3 linked regions of the Homo sapiens genome follow. The protein of the gene in region 2 purifies or fractionates together with the protein of the main gene of each other region. This does not show direct contact. Each region holds a gene or a part of one and is shown on either strand. Other genes may lie near its edges. The genes, in order: KIAA1671, SLC25A18 and FAM83B.

Region 1 (3,652 bases), 7.5 Mb from region 2:
CTGATGCACTTCCTGACACTCCTCCTGGAGGCCCACTCTCCCCCTGCCGCGGCCTCCCCATCCGCCACTCTGCTCTTAACCTCAGCAAGTTCTAGGCCCCTTCCCAGCCTGGGTGAGGGGGACTCAGCAGCCTTCTCTGGCTCTGGGTCCAGCTTGGCCTTTTCTTCCCAGGGACTCTGGTCATTGCTGGGGGTGACCCCAGATGAGCCCCCCACCAGGGCTCTGGGGCTGCCCATCTCCGGCTTCGAAAGCATCTTCTCCTTCCGTTCACGGATTTTCTTGGCCACCTCCAGGAAGTCCAAATCAGGATCATGAAGAGGAGCCTCCGCCTTGACCAAACAGTCCCTGTCCAGCTTGGACGCTGCTCTGGGCCTCTCTAGCCCAGCCATATCCCCTGCTGTGGGTCCACTTCCTTCATCGGCCACCTTCCTCAGCAAGGCCTCTTTGTTCTCAAACCGGGCCGTGAGGTCCATGGACAAGGGCCTGGGCTTCCTCACCCACGTCTTCTCGGGAGGGGTGGGTGGCACTTTGCCCACTGTGGCCGCTGCGCCGGGGCCTGGCTTCTGAGGCTGAATGGACTCCGTGAAAATGGCAGACACGGGCCTTCTCTTCAGGCGAGGCCTGGGCTCCACAAGGGGGCGTGCCGTGTCCTCCACACTGCTGGCCTTTGAGGGAGGATGGTCTTGGCCTGCCTCCTCTTGGGGTACAGGTGGTTTTGTGTCCTGAGACAGGGGAGCTGACCGGGGAAGGGTCCCCGCAGGCTTCTGGGTGGGCAGGGCGGGCTTGGCAGCCACCTCAGGCCGGGAGCCGGACACACCTAGCTTGGCCTCCTCCGCCCCCTCACTAACCGCCTTCCCCAGAGCGGGGCCGCTTTTGGTGGTTTCGAAGAGAATCATGGTGCTGGAGCTGGGCCGCAGGAACACAGCCTTGTTGAAGAGGGGCGAGCTCGTCCTCGGGCCCTCCCCACTGCCCACCTCCTGCCCCACCAAGCCGGGCATCCTGTTGTCCAGATCCTTTGCTGCTGGCTCCTCAGAGAGCCCCCCAGAGGGGGAAGGTCCAGTCGAACTGGGCCGCAGAGACGGGACAGGAGATTTCACGTCCTGCTCCTTCGAGAAGGGTTTGGGGGCGAGCCTTGGCAGAGGGAGTAACCGGGCCGGGCTCCGCAGGGGGCTCTTCGCTTCCAAGATCCGGGCTGGGGGAGCCCCAGAGGCTTCGCCGGCCTGGAGGAAGTAGGTCCTCGTCAGGGTCTCCTCCTTGCCCATCTCACCCAGGCCTGGCACGGCCGTCAAGGGCGTTATGGAGCCCACCTCGACCCGCGTGGCCATGGTTATGGTTGTGGATTCATGGGGGTTAGGAACTTCAAGAATGGAGAAGCAATTGCTAAACAAACAAAACAAACAAACAAGTAAATTTGGAAAACAGTCAGTGTCTGGGTTGAAGCAGAATGGTTTAGAGAAATGGGACAGAGTCCTGAGCCCCAGATTCCATACGACAGCCCTCTGCTGACCTCACCCGGCAGGCTTGGGCCTGCCTCTCCCCGTCTCTGAGCTCTGGACGAGGGGAGTGGACTAAACGCCCATCCCTGAAGTTCGTTCCAGCTCCAAGGGTGTAGAAAAGGCATCAACACTCTGGAGGACTTTCCCCTGACAGCTAATCTAGAGGCCAGCACTTAATGGCAAAAAGCAGTGATCTCTGCTACACAGATAAGGAAACCAGCTCAGAGAGGCCAAGTAACTGGAGTCACCCAGGAAGCAAGAGGCGAAGTCAGGACTTAAAACCAGGTTTGACACCAAATTCACACCACACATGCTCCTCCCTGAATAGGCCTCAGTGGGAGCGTCCTCACATTCCCTCACTCCTGTTACCCTGTTTTCCCACTGCAGAGCCTGCCCACATCCCAGGTGATCCTAATCACAAGTGTGTGCTAAGCATCTAGCACAGAGAAGGCAAGTAACCTGCTGCAGGTCACACAGCAATGCAGCTCAGGAGTGCCTGGGAGCACAAAGCTGGTTAGTGACCTTGGAACCCATGCCCTAGGCACCAACCCCACCCAATCATCCCTTTGTCCCTTTTCTTTCCCCTCCCCCACCCTTCCAGATGCCATAAAAAGAAGCCATTCTCATTTTTCTCACTCAACCTGCTTTCATTATTTGTTTGCTTTGTGGTTCTTTTCTGTTGAACACGCATATTATGCTGACTGCCTTCATACTCTTAATAGAAAGAGAAACGCCCAACAGTGAGGTCTTCCCATGAGTGAGATCTCGAGCTATGCCACATGCTTCTTGTGTTTTATACATCTCATCCTCCTCACAACCCTATTTAGTGGGTACAATTAGGAGACCCCATTTTGTAGTAGCTTGGGGCATAAGCCTCTTGTTCACCCTGCTATGAGATCTGTTTTCGCAAAGCAGGGGACCTCCTCTCTCATTAACCCTCCAGCAACTCCAAAAGTCAAGAATGAAGGAATGATCGTTATCTCCCTCATGGAGATGAAGGGAAAGGGCCCAGAGAGGTCGCCAGACTTGCCTACGATCACCCAGCTGAAACCTAACCTCAAGTCCACCACCCACTTAGCTCTGTCTTTTTTTTTTTTTGAGACCAAGTTTCACTCTTGCTGCCCAGGCTGGAGTGCAATGGCGCGACCTTGGCTCACAGCAACTTCTGCCTCCCAGGTTCAAGCCATTCTCCTGCCTCAGCTTCCGGAGTAGCTGGGATTACAGGCATGTGCCACCACGCCCAGGTAATTTTGTGGTTTTAGTAGAGGTGGGGTTTCTCCATGTTGGCCAGGCTGGTCTCGAACTCCTGACCTCAGGGGATCCGCCCACCTCAGCCTCCCAAAGTGCTGAGATTACAGGCTTGAGCCACCACACCCAGCCTCAGCTCTGTCTTTTTAAAAATTATTTTTTATTCCTTTCTGGTCTTAAAAAGTGCCAGGTAAGTTGCTGTTCTCGATCCCCCAGGCTCTCTTCATGCCAGTGTTTTCTTCCCTGTGAAACTGCCCCCAGCCAGCCCCCACCTAGATGGACTAAAAAAGTAGAAGGTATTTTAGTTAAACACAAGCCTCTCCACTTCCCTTCCTTGGGGCCCCACACTGCTCCCCCGGCTCTGACTCACTCAGCAGCCTCCAGGAAAGAAAGGCAGACAGATTTTGATATTTTCTCTTCCTTACACGCTCGATGGTGCTAACAGATTCCATCTCCCCAAACTGGAGAACACTGTCTAGACACGGTTAGAGGTAGAATGGAGGGACAGATATGAAGAATCTGAGAATTGGAGAATTTCCATACACAAAGATCCCAACCAGAGTTCTAAGGCTCCAGAATCCCACCCAGAATCAGGGCCATTGGCCTTTTGGGAGAGCAGCTGTGACCTCTGGAAACCCTGATTGAGGATACATATGTAATAGCCAGGACATGAGACACAGAACAATGACAGGATTCAAAGGACAGAGAGAAAATTCTCTGGCAGAACTCACAGGCACTCTCCATGCCCTTGGACACTCCAGCCCTCAAGCTTGGGTCAAGCATGGGCCCCACTTACCCAAGCTGGCAGGCCCTGGGTCAGGGGGTGTGACTGCCGGGAAAAGCCAGTAGTGTCACATGTCATCATGAATGGGGCTGTCCACACACTTCCATGGCAGAAACAAGAAGGG
Region 2 (4,190 bases):
AGATTTGAAACACGCATCAGCAGGAGGAAGATACATTATCCCCCCACTGAGAGTGTTAGAAGCAGGGGGTAGGTAAGGAGACGGGGAGGGAAGAGAAGTTTGGCAGCTGACATGAGCTTAAAGTAGCAGTTGCAGATGAGGGGGTGACAGCAGGCACCAGAAACAGCGGTGCAGTGCCGTGTCACACCCACAAGCATGGTTCAAAAAAATAGAGATCGGCATTGGTGCGGATGTAGAGAATTGGAACCCTTGCTGGTGAGAATGTAAAACACGGCAGCCATGGTGGAAGACAGTATGGCAGGTCCTCAAAAAAGTAAACACAGAGGCCAGGTGCGGTGGCTCACGCCTGTAATCCTTGTGCTTTGGGAGGCTGAGGTGGGAGGATCACTAGAGCCTGGGAGTTTGAGACCAGCCTGGGAAACATCCAAGACCCCATCTCTTTATTTTTTGAGACGGAGCTTCACTCTTGTTGCCCAGGCTGGAGTGCAATGGCACGATCTCGGCTCACTGAAACCTCTACCTCCTGGGTTCAAGTGATTCTCCTGCCTCAGCCTCCGGAGAAGCTGGGATTACAGGCATGCCCCATCATGCCCGGCTAATTTTGTGTTTTTAGTAGAGACGGGGTTTCTCCATGTTTGTCAGGCTGGTCTTGAACTCCCCACCTCAGGTGATCTGCCTGCCTCGGCCTCCCAAAGTGCTGGTATTACAGGCGTGAGCCAACACACCTGTCCAAAAATTTTTTTAAAAAATTACTCAAAAAAACCCCAAACAAAAAATTAGCCAGGCGCTGCGGTGTGTGTCTGTAGTTCTAGCTACTTGGGAGGTCGAGGAAGGAGGATCATTTGAGCCCTGGGGTTGGAGGCTGCAGTGAGCTATGATCATACCACTGCACTTCAACTTGGCAAGACCCTATCTCTATTAAAAAATAGAAAATTTGGCAGGGCGTGGTGGCTCACGCCTGTAATCCCAGCACTTTGGGAGCCCGAGGTGGGTGGATCACGAGGTCAGGAGATCGAGACCATCCTGGCCAACATGGCAAAACCCCGTCTCTACTAAAAAATACAAAAAATTAGCTGGGTATAGTGGCAGGCACCTGTAGTCCCAGCTACTCGGGAGGCTGAGGCAGGAGAATGGCGTGAACCCGGGGGGGCGGAGTTTACAGTGAACCGAGATTGTGCCACTGTACTCCAGCCTGGGTGACAGAGCAAGACTGTCTCAAAAACAAAACAAAACAAAACAAAACAAAAACAGAATGAGTCTGCACAGAGTGACAAATGAGGCTGCAGGCAGAAATAAGAGCATCCCGAGGGAGGGCTCCTGGGCTCAAGCGATCCACCCACCTCACCCTCCTGAGTAGCTGGGATCACAGGTGCACACCATCAACCTGGCTAATTAAAACAATTATTTTTTTGTAGAGGTGGGGCCTCATTATGTTGCCTGGGCCTGATTTTTTTTTTTTGGAGACAGAGTCTTGCTCTGTCCCCCAGGCTGGAGTGCACTGGCTCAATCTTGGCTCACTACAACGTCCATCTCCCAGGTTCAAGTGAGTTTCCTGCCTCAGCCTCCCGAGTAGCTGGGACTACCACACCTGCTACCACGCCTGGCTAATTTTTTGTATTTTTAGTATAGATGGGGTTTCACGTTAGCCAGGATGGTCTCCATCTCTTGACCTCGTGATCCGCCCGCCTTGGCCTCCCAAAGTGCTGGGATTACAGGTGTGAGCCACCGCGCCCCAGCCAACTTAAGTCCTTTCTAAAAATTTTTTTTACTTTATATAAACTGTTTGTATTCTTTTTTCTATGCTATGCCTCAGGTTTGAAGATGTTCAGCTCAGATTACCTGCATCTAAGGACCAAAATGTAAATGCCAGGGCCATTCTTCCAGGTCAGTTTGCATCAGAACCATGCAGGTTGCATCTGTTGCTAGTTACAAGAGAGAGCTAGGCCCTTCTTCAGTTTAAGGTCTTAGGCGGGATGCCAAAATCTGCATTTCCAGCAAGTTCCCAGATGATGGCCAGGCTACATTGTGAGAACATCACAATAGATCATGTGAGTGAGAATGATCAGGGCAGGCTGAGGTGGTGGGGAGAGGAACACCATCACTTCTCCCAAGCTGCAGTTTCTGCAGATCTACGCTGCCTTTGGGAAATGTTTAGCATCACACTGGACATAATTACTTGCGCTGCATTTTCTGAATTACACAGTCTTCGTCTTAGAGTGGAGCCAGGGCAAAAGAGGAATTCAAGCTGGAACAAGGAGTCCGAGAAGACGCGACTGCTGGACAGAACAAGCGATGAAGCCAGTCCCCAAACTGATGAGCCCGCAGCTCCATCCAAATTAAATGGGCTGAGAACACCAACACTCCACCCTCCCGGTACGATTGCATGGCAGGGAGGAACCAAAAATATTTTTCCTTCATCTGCTATCTCAGCTAAGCAGTACACTCTTTCTAGCACCTCACTAGAGTCCAGTTTTTCTGTATTCTGTATTCACAATACAGGTTTATTATGAACTCTGAGCAGATGAGGCTATTTTTCCCCCTTTTGGTTTCTTAGTAACTAGGCAAAGTACAAGGCTCACGGTGGGTATTTAATAAATACTTACTGACAACTTGCCTGCAAGCGAGTCGACGTTCATCTCAGTTGTTGAGGCACTCACGGGCCAGGCTTCACTCGACTCTTCTCACTGCCTACTCAGTTCCTTCTCAAAGCAAAGCCCGTGGATATATCCAAGGAACTGGCTTCATTGCTTTTAAAAATTCTGTCCAGCTTTAACTGGCTAGAATAGGGGTCCTCGTCCTTGTCATATGCTGTCCAGAATGAAGTCCAAATCCAGGATTCTGGGAGCATGTCATGCTTTCTCGAACCTGCAGGAGTCTCAAGGGCACCTGCATTGATATGCATGTCATGGCTGTAGAAGGGGGCTGGCATTGCAGCACACAATAGCCAAATCTGGGGATTTTCCAGATGCCTTCGCCTTCTTGGCTAGTATTTTTCACTGAAGGTTTTTTATAAAACTGCTTAAGGAAACTAGGGGAGTGAGCATTGCTAGCAGAAAGGGGACTAAAATAGATGCACAGAGGTCCCTTAAAAGTCCAAAGGAACACCACGAGGCCAGGGAAACATCTGCAGGGTCAATGCAGAGAAATCAACAGCAGTTGTGGGGGAGGACAGTGAAGGCAGCCACACAGCAGGCAGCTGCTGCTGGGTCACCCAGGGCTCTGCCGCGGCTCCATGAGCGCCCAGAAGGAAAGGTCCCATGATACCTCTTGCATAACAACTGCATGACATAGGCCGTTCACCTTCCAGGAAGATTCCAGGGTAAAGATCAGCCCCCAAATAGCCCGTCTGGATGGTTATTTTCTCAATTCCGTTGGTAGCACTCTCAGAGAACATAGAGTATAGCAAAATGGAGCCCACAAAGGGGCTGATTTATAAAACTTGCGTTGCCTTTCCTTCCAGTAACACGAATTGGTTTAGAGACAAGAGACATTAATCTTTAACAAGAGAAGCACCTATGGATGTCTCCAAATGTCAAAATAGAAAGTTGATCAGAACTTTTGAGACTAATCTACAGTAACAATGTATAGCTTCCTGTCTCCCTAAATCTTGCCCGAGTAGCTTTTATGCTCTTATTTTAAGAAGCTCACTGTGTAGGATTATCTGTGTAAGATATATTTACCCAGGATGCTTAACAAGCGTTAAACAGTAACAGTTCCAAAAATAGAGCCACATTTACACTGCCTACTGCACTGTTTTGAAACAGTTAACCAGTGGAAGATGCTAACTTTTGGTACATATATTTGTTGCTGGTTTTGGCCCGAAGAAGATAAATCTGGAAGCACTCTAAATGGCTAAGTTCCTTATAAAAAATAAAGGCCGGGCACAGTGGCTCACGCCTGTAATTCCTAGCACTTCGGGAGGCTGAGGCAGACAGATCACTTGAGCTCAGTTCTAGACCAGCCTGGGCAACATCGTGAGACAAAAAATTAGCTGGGTGTGGTGGGGTGCCCCTGTAGTCCCAGCTGCTTGGGAGGCTGTGGTGAGAGGACTGCTTGAGCCCGGGAGATTGAGGCTGCAGTGAGCTGAGACCATGCCACTGTACCTAGCCTGGGCAACAGAGTGAAACCCTGTCTCAAGAAAAATTAAAGCCTATCTTTTTTTTTTTTTTTCATGTTGTGAGAATTTAATA
Region 3 (2,566 bases), on a different chromosome or scaffold from region 2:
TCTCATTTTCCCAATGGTATTCTTACAAAAACACTATGCAGTCATATCATATTTGGCACAACTTAAAGAAGAGCAAGACCTGTAATCCCAGCACTCTGGGAGGCCGAGGCGGGAGGATCACGAGGTCAGGAGTTTGAGACTAGACTGGCCAACATGGTGAAATCCCATCTCTTCTGAAAATACAAAAATTAGCCGGGTGTGGTGGTGCGCACCTGTAATCCCAGCTACTCAGGAGGCTGAGGCAGGAGAATCGTTTGAACTTGGGAGGCAGAGGTTGCAGTGAGCCAAGATTGCGCCACTGCACTCTAGCCTGGGTGACAGAGCGAGACTCCATCTCAAAAGAAAAAAAAAAAGAGCAAGAATTTTCGCAAGCAAGACCCCTTAGCATTGTCATGCCAATCTAACAAAAATTTAGGCAGAAATTTACATTTCTAAAAGCTTTTATACAATAGAAAAAGGAGGGGGAATCATTCAGATTTTCTAAATTCCTACTGGTTTGTCCTAAATGTGAAGTAAGGAATGACTATAAAAAATCAGCAGCCTATGGGTAAGAGGGGGACAGCTCCCTGGGTCCAGTGTAGAAAGAAGCACATCCCAGACCGTTTTCAAAGGCTGAGGAAAATAAATTCCTACGAATGTCATTATACTACATGAGGCTGATACTTTGCAAACACTTCAGGCAGAAAAAAAAATAAAAAATAAAAAATGTAAAAGGTACTGCTGTTGCCCAAACAGCTGTACAATGATCCACAGAAAAAATAATATTAATAAAATATAACAAGTTATCCCGTAGAACTTCAAGTTAATCTTAAAAAAGGGCTTTGTCCCATTTGCTTATATTTTTGAAGATATGAAAACACTATAAACACATGTTATAAAGGGTTACTGAGGGTAGTATGACCTTTTTAAAAGGAAATGGTTAAAATCCATACACCATACACCATACACCATACATCGTCCACAAAAATTTCTAAGTGAGACTTAAAATCTTCAGTCTAAAGAAAATGATTTAAATACATCTATTATTTTTACCATTACCACTTACAAATAATGTGTTTACAGAGAAATTCTATCTACAGCAGACCCTAACTTTATCACACAGAAAAATAACTTTATACTAGGACACTGGTGAACATATACATCATACCCATAATTCTGTCCTTAGGAAAATCTATTGGCATGTTACAAAGACTGTCCACAATTTTCTTTGGACAAATATTGATAGCCTCATTCATTTTGCATTTTAATAGCTATTTATTTTTGTGTATAAAGTTTCCAAACTTTTGCATAAATCCTCGAAACTTGTTCTCATTGGGTTGATATGAGCGATAAACACCAGTGTTGTAATTAAGCAATGGACTAGACCTGCCATAACTGTTGCCCATAGTCGCAGATTTTATTTCTGGGCGATTTATACTGGTATTTGGCATGTTGCTTGTTGGCTGAATAGAGCTCTCAATCTTACAAAACGGCTCAAAACGACTGTAAACACGCCGATCAGTTGAATGAGATCGTAGAAGCTCACTGGACGTTGGCCTTGGAGAAGAAGTAGGTCTTCTTTCAGGGGTAACAACTGCATTAATCTCCCTTGAATCTCGGTATTGGATCTGTTCAGTGTTAAATCTTGGGGCAGAGGCATCTCCTGCCCTTTCCAAGAACTTGCTTTCAACTGGACCTGGAGAAGGTGTTCTTTTATTTTCATCTGGTGGAGCATTTATCTCTTGAGATGGGCTAACTGTTACATCTTCCTTACTCTTGTGGATGCTGCCTTGAGAATTCGATGAGGAAGAATGCTTTCTTCTAGGAGATGAATCAACTTTTGTGTCTGATTTCTTTGGTTTTTGATTTTCTTCACCCTCAGAAACTAATGTGTCAGAGCTACTACACAATCTATAAAAGGCAGGTGCTTTATTTTTGGATAGATTTTCTTTCTTATCTGGGGTAAGGCTAAGTAATGACCTTAACTTCTGAGACCCCTTTTTCAAAAAACTTGGGGAACCCTTAACTTCCTTCTTTGAAGCAAGTTCTTTGTTAGATTCCTCTTTATTCACATCAAGTAAAGCAGCAATGGAAACTGATTTGGTAGTAGTGCCACTTGGAGAGTTTCTCTTGGTAACTTCCTCCTCATCCTCCTCCAAGTTATGAGTCACATTGTGCATGCTTTTAGAACTTTTCAGCAAATCTTCTTTGGGCTTTTCTGGTTGTCTAACTCGATTCCTGGTAAGTGTACTATATACATAATGCTTACTATTTCCAGGATCTAAGTTGGCTTTTGAGTTGTCAAATAACGGGAAACTTCGCCTTTTAAGTAGATTCTCAGTCTGTTGATTCTTTAGATTTTCTGTCTGCTTATTTACACCCAAGGTTTTATATATATAGTTATTTGATTCAGTATGGCCATTTGTAGTTTGGTTTAAGGCTACTGAGTGGTTTTCAGGAACCTGCAAGGTGTGCATTTTTGGTGCCTCTGACTGCAATGGGAGCTTGGGGATTGATTCTGGCAAGGGTTTGTCTGTCAAATGCTGTACATTCGTAGGGGTGTCTGGGACCTCTTTAGGTGTCTCAC

Evidence for each region.
Region 1: the proteins of SLC25A18 (region 2) and KIAA1671 purify together in Homo sapiens (affinity purification with mass spectrometry; one large-scale study listed by BioGRID and IntAct). This does not show direct contact.
Region 3: the proteins of SLC25A18 (region 2) and FAM83B purify together in Homo sapiens (affinity purification with mass spectrometry; one large-scale study listed by BioGRID and IntAct). This does not show direct contact.

The regions. Positions count from the first base shown.
Region 1 is NC_000022.11:25,025,673-25,029,324, reverse strand, and holds part of KIAA1671 (uncharacterized protein KIAA1671), read right to left. Parts: 5' UTR 3,541-3,652; intron 1,381-3,540; 5' UTR 1,326-1,380; coding exon 1-1,325.
Region 2 is NC_000022.11:17,562,127-17,566,316, reverse strand, and holds the start of SLC25A18 (mitochondrial glutamate carrier 2), read right to left. Parts: upstream 2,820-4,190; 5' UTR 2,604-2,819; exon of another isoform or gene 2,204-2,603; intron 2,049-2,203; exon of another isoform or gene 1,814-2,048; intron 1-1,813. UniProt on the Homo sapiens protein: Responsible for the transport of glutamate from the cytosol into the mitochondrial matrix with the concomitant import of a proton (symport system).
Region 3 is NC_000006.12:54,940,692-54,943,257, reverse strand, and holds part of FAM83B (protein FAM83B), read right to left. Parts: coding exon 1,251-2,566; 3' UTR 1-1,250. UniProt on the Homo sapiens protein: Probable proto-oncogene that functions in the epidermal growth factor receptor/EGFR signaling pathway. Activates both the EGFR itself and downstream RAS/MAPK and PI3K/AKT/TOR signaling cascades.